Linked DNA regions of Homo sapiens: region 1 is linked to region 2. Evidence: fine-mapped expression QTL. Tissue or cell type: whole blood. Region 2 holds a variant in brackets; the other region holds the start of a gene. All regions are shown on one strand. Distances are between the middles of the regions.

The links. PIP is the estimated chance that this variant, and not a neighbour inherited with it, causes the effect.
Region 1: FERMT3 starts here. The variant in region 2 is fine-mapped to the expression of FERMT3 in whole blood (INTERVAL, PIP above 0.99).

The regions. Positions count from the first base shown.
Region 1 is chr11:64,205,565-64,208,064 of GRCh38, reverse strand. It overlaps FERMT3 (FERM domain containing kindlin 3), which reads right to left and starts at 1,344. Exons shown (of 15, transcript NM_031471.6): 1 at 1,251-1,344; 2 at 541-714. The coding sequence starts at 700. RefSeq lists enhancers at 696-775, 1,096-1,175, 1,610-2,172, 2,076-2,335, 2,173-2,500.
Region 2 is chr11:64,106,672-64,109,424 of GRCh38, reverse strand. All of the region lies in intron 3 of MACROD1 (mono-ADP ribosylhydrolase 1), which reads left to right. All of the region lies in intron 2 of FLRT1 (fibronectin leucine rich transmembrane protein 1), which reads right to left. Among named protein-coding and RNA genes, the nearest start is that of MACROD1, 58 kb to the left of the region's middle. The variant G/TG (reference allele first, on the strand shown) is at 1,112.

The DNA.
Region 1 (2,500 bases), 99 kb before region 2:
CTCTCAGGAAGGGGTAGCCCCCACCCCCGGCAGGGAAGGAAGATGAGGAGCCCCCGTGTCACTAGCCCCGTGGTCCTCCATGACTGATACCACAGCTGCTCTGCTGTAACTTCCTGTGGGGGCAGGGCCTTCCCACCCAGGCTGGGCCTGTCACCAACCTGCTCAAAGCTTCCGCCAAGGGGAGGGAGCGTGGGGGCAGGCCCCTGGGTCACCTAGACCCCCTCAGACCTCAGCAATGTGACTTCAGCCTCGGCCCAGACAAGACCACTCCTTCTGCCCCTATTGGTGGCTGAATGGAGGATTGTGGCTGCGTCTGATCCTTAGCAGACCAGCTGCAGCAGAAGGGAGGGAGGGAAGAGGGTGGGAGGGAGAGGAAGTTGGGGAAATGTCTTTTTTGGAACCAAATGATTAAGCTAATGCCTGAGTCACCGTGACACCATTATCGGGAGCTGAGCAGCAGGGATGGCCCGGAAGTGCCCAGAGACACCCGTGGCGGCCGCCCATGGTGCCGAGTTCAGCAAGCGGGCAGCGGACACTCACTGATCTGCTCCACAATCTTCAGGAGCACCCCGCCGATGTGCGACTCCCCAGTGACCCGCAGGGTGACCGACTCGGCCTCTGGGTCCTCCTCTCCCACAAACACCCGCAGCTCCCATGACGAGTCGATGTAGTCCCCGGAGGCTGTCTTCATCCCCGCCATGGCTGCGGCTGCTGCTACAGAGAGTGTGGAAGGAGGCAAGGTGGGCAGGCCCTGGTAGGCCTCCGGGTTTGGGCAGAAGAGCTCTGTGATGCCCTGGACACACCCAGAGGAAAGCCGCTCATGAAGGAGGGCGGGAGTGAGCACCCAGGCCAGCACGCCCGTGGTACCCTCAGACTCTCTCTCCAGCGCTGGCGCTTGAGCCGCGAGGGCCCTCAGAGACCATGTAGTCCAATCCGCTCCCATCCTACAGGCGGGCAGACTGAGGCCGGGTAAGAAGGGGCTCACTCAGGACCACCGTGCTCAATGCCAGCCCACAGCTCACTCCCAGACCCTCAGGGGCAGCTGCCCACTCTGGCCATGGCTTCGTACCCAGGCCAGGAAGTAGTTCCGATCCTGGCCCACAGCTCAGATGCCAACATCACAAACCAGCCAAAGCCTCTCCGGGGAGGTGGAAAGTTCAGGCTGCCGCATGGCGAGAGGCAGGCTGGGCAGAGGCTGCAGGAGGATAAGGAAGAGAAGGGCCCAGGGTCCCAGTGAGGCCTGAGCTTACCTTTCCTGGCAAGGGCTGGGGGCTGCAGGTGGGTCTCGGGCTACACCCCTGTGGGCCGTGGGCTTCCTGCCCTCCTTTCTCTTTGGAGCTTCCTTCAGGGCAGCCCTTGCTTGTGCCTTATCACGAGCAGGGCGGGTTCAGCCCCTCCCCAGGGCGGGCTGGCGCTGGGTGCAGGAAGCACACTGCCAGCCCACAGAGGGTTCCAGGGGCCCCCCCACCTTTGTCCCCAGAGAGCACAGGAAGCTAGGGAGAGCGGGGCTTAGCGACTCAACACCATAAAAACGCCCCCTTCCTCATTTGGAGGGAAGCTCAGTGCAAACTCAACAAGTCCCCCGGCTGTGTGTGTTCAGGGCTAGGTCCACTTTTGTGGGAAGTGTCTGCCATCCTCAGCCTGTCACATGAGGTGGGGACCTTGGGCTTTGAAACATCACTGGGCTGCCGGAGGGAGAGCCCAGGAGTCGACAGAGTGTATCCAGGTTATTTGGGACTCACAGGTTAAATCGGCTCCAGCCTGGCTATCCCTATCAACCAAGGATCCCTCAAGGCCCCAGAGGGAAACAAGTCCATTTTGCAGTTTTTCCTAGCTCCGCGTAGGGCTACCTTCAAACTCATGAACTCAGACCTGCCAGGTGAACAAGTGAACAGTACTTGGCCCAGACCATCCACAACCTCCCGGGCCCTCAGGTCACCCAGCTCCAAACACGACCCCTCCACTGTGCTCCACTTGGATGAGCCTCCCCGAGTCCCCACGAGGCTCACTCCCATCAAGTCCCTGCTTAGGTGACACCTCAGGGGTCTCTGGTGGTCTATACCCTCCTGCTCATCACCTGCCCTAGGATGTGGACTTCAGTAGAGCAAGGCACGTCCGCCACCAGCTCTGCGCAGGACAGCGGCCTTTCCAGTGAACACACTGGGGTTGGAGCATGCAGGGTGGGCAAGCCTGGGGGCGGCAGAGTCCTGCCAATGGGGGAGGCTACCTGAGCATCGCCACTCAGATGGGGAAGGGGGCGGCCTGCCGGGGATTCCCAGGGGAAAAGAAAGCTGATGAAACTAACAGCAGGAAGTCCAGCCAGCTGCTAGTCTCAGCGCCTTCCTAGCCCAGAAAGCAGCACTCTTGGAGCAAATGAGGAAGTTTTACTCCTGCCCCAAAGGCCTCCCCAGTCCAGGAAGAGAGCTTTAGAAAACGCAGCTTGTTGCAACCATGGAAAAGTGTAATTAAAGCTTAGCACCCTAAGTTCTCAGGTAAGAGC
Region 2 (2,753 bases):
GGGAGAGGCCGGCAGCCTCCCGGGTTTCCCAGGTCTGGGGGAGCAGTAGGGAAGCTGAGTGTGGGTGTCTACACCCAACTGCAAAGCCTTTATAAGTCAGTGACACCAAGCTTCTTCCCCACCCCTCGTGGTGGCTTATGGCCCACTGTCTGCTGCTCAGCCTTTGCTGGGGACCCTGCTGCTGGCTCCTGGCCCTCATGGAACCTGGGGATGCTATTTTCTATTCACAGGCATGTCCCAGGAGCTTCTGGAAGCCAGCAAGGAAATAGCCCCCCATCCCTGTCTGGCCTCACTCCCACGTCTCCTCTTTCACCTGTCCCATCCCTGGGATGGGGGCATCTCAGGCAGGGCCAGGCGGGGAGAGGAAGTGTCCTGCATGTAAACTCTGTATGTAGGAAAGACAAGTACATGCTCACGTGCATGGATGCTGGTCACGTCTCCCCCACCCCCACTTGCCCCTCAGCCTCCTTCCTGCCCACCTGCCTGCCTCTGTCCTTAGGAATCTGGCTGCCCATGTGGCCTGGCACTGGTGTGTGGCCTGGCACTGGTGTGTGGTTGCTGCAGACCCTGGGGTCCTTTGGCTTTTCCCCCACTTCCCAGCCCCCAGGTGGGGTCCCTTGCAGGTGTCTTTCCCCTGCCAGTCCCTCCCTTCAGCAATAATTCATGTGTCTCCCCTAAACCTTGCCATGCCTTCAATTCCTCACTGAGAATGCCGTGCAGGCAGACTGCGGGCAGAAGCAGTTTCTCAGCCCCAGAGCGGGAAAGGCCAGTGGGACCCCAGTCCCACCTCCCACTAGACAGGAAGCCCTACCAAGGCACAATCATCTCCAGCTCTGTGATGGGGCTTCAGCAAACCTTTGTTTAAATTAATGAAAGACCCCACCTTCCTGGGGGCTCAACTGCAAATAAGACAGAGGGAAGAGGGCCAGGAGGTAGACAGGGCAGGCCGCTGCTTCCTGGTGCTCAGGGAGACCCAGGGAGAGCTCCCCTCCTTCTCGCCAGGAAGCCCCTTTCCTGTGAAGGCAAGTAGCCAGTGGTCTGCCTGGCTCAACCAAGCTGCTCAGCCTACTGTGGGGTGGCCCTGGGTCTCAAGTCTTTTTTTTTTTTTTTT[G/TG]AGACAGAGTTTCGCTCTTGTTGCCCAGGCTGGAGTGCAATGGTACGATCTTGGCTCACCGCAACCTCTGCCTCCTGGGTTCAGGCGATTCTTCTGCCTCAGCCTCCCGCGTAGCTGTGATTACAGGCATGCACCACCACGCCCCACTAATTTTGTATTTTTAGTAGAGACGGGATTTCTCCATGTTGGTCAGGCTGGTCACTAACTCCTGACCTCAGGTGATCTGCCCGCCTCGGCCTCCCAAAGTGCTGGGATTACAGGGGTCTCAAGTCTATCTGACCATAAACGATCTACTTCCCTGGGCTTTTGTGAAGATAAAATAAGGTTACTTTCAATGTTTAGCAGAGTCGTATTCAGAATGAGGGAACTATTACCATTACTAGCAATGAGCCATTCTTCCCTGAGCCCCAGACATGAACTGCAGGAAGGGAGGGGAGCCTTGAGTCGTGTGAGTGGGGCTTTTCCAAGCCCTAGTTCAGGCAGATGCCCCAGGGACTGCAGGCCCACCAGAGGCATCTCCTTAGGGCAGGGACTAGATGCCATGACCCTCAAGGACCTTCTAACCCCAGCTCCCGCCAGGGCAGGGTGCCAGCCAGCCACACCCATCACCCTGAACAGCTTTGCTCCTGGATCCCATCCACTGGTATCATTTAGAACTTGTGATGCATGGGGGCTGGGGCGGGAATTCTTTTAAAACCTAAAGTTAATTATTTTTCTAATTTCATGCTGCATGCATTATGCATCAGCTGTTATCACTGGCGGTAATTGCAGACAGGTATGCAAATCCACTATAAATGCACCTAACCACATAGGCCGGCTGGGTGGCGCTGGTGCCAGGCGGCGGGATGTCCTGAACTTCAGAGAATGTAAATCGCTTTTAAAAAAACAGGACTTTAGAATTGTGTCTTAGGAAGTTAATTATATTGATAACAGTGTTCGATATTAAACCATTCAAGGCCAGGAGGGGGTGGGGGGATGAAAGGAGACACGTGTAATTTTGTTCCTTTCTCTCTCGGCATTATTTAATAAGATGCTCCTACACCTGATATTTCTGTCTGTCTGTGTCCATTTTTAGTAAAGCTGCCTAAACTGAGACTTAATTCCTTTATGGAAGGGAAAAAGAAAGCCCAGTGGGCTGGGCAAGTTGGCTCATTGTAATCCCAGCACTTTGGGAGGCTGAGGCAGGTGGATCACCTGAGGTCAGGAGTTCAAAACCAGCCTGGTCAACATGGCGAAACTCTGTCTCTACTAAAAATACAAAAATTAGCTGGGCATGGTGGTGCATGCCTGTAATCCCAGCTACTTGGGAGGCTGAGGCAGGAGATTCACTTGAACCTGGGAGGCGGAGGTTGCAGTGAGCCGAGAGATCGTGCCACTGCACTCCAGCCCGAGTGACAGAGTAAGACCCTATCTCAAAAAAAAATAAAATAAAATAAATAAAAGAAAGCCCAGTGGAATTTCAGAGGGAAGGAGAGGGGCTAAAGGTCTTTATTTTGGGGGATGAGGAAAAGGAAGAGAGGCAGCACCAGCAGGGCTGGGGACAGTCCTCCAGAACAGGACTGAGGCTGCGGGCTCTGCACTGCTTCTCTCCTCAGCCGCCTTTAGGATCCTGGGCCACAGCAGAGAGCCTGGAGAGGAGCAG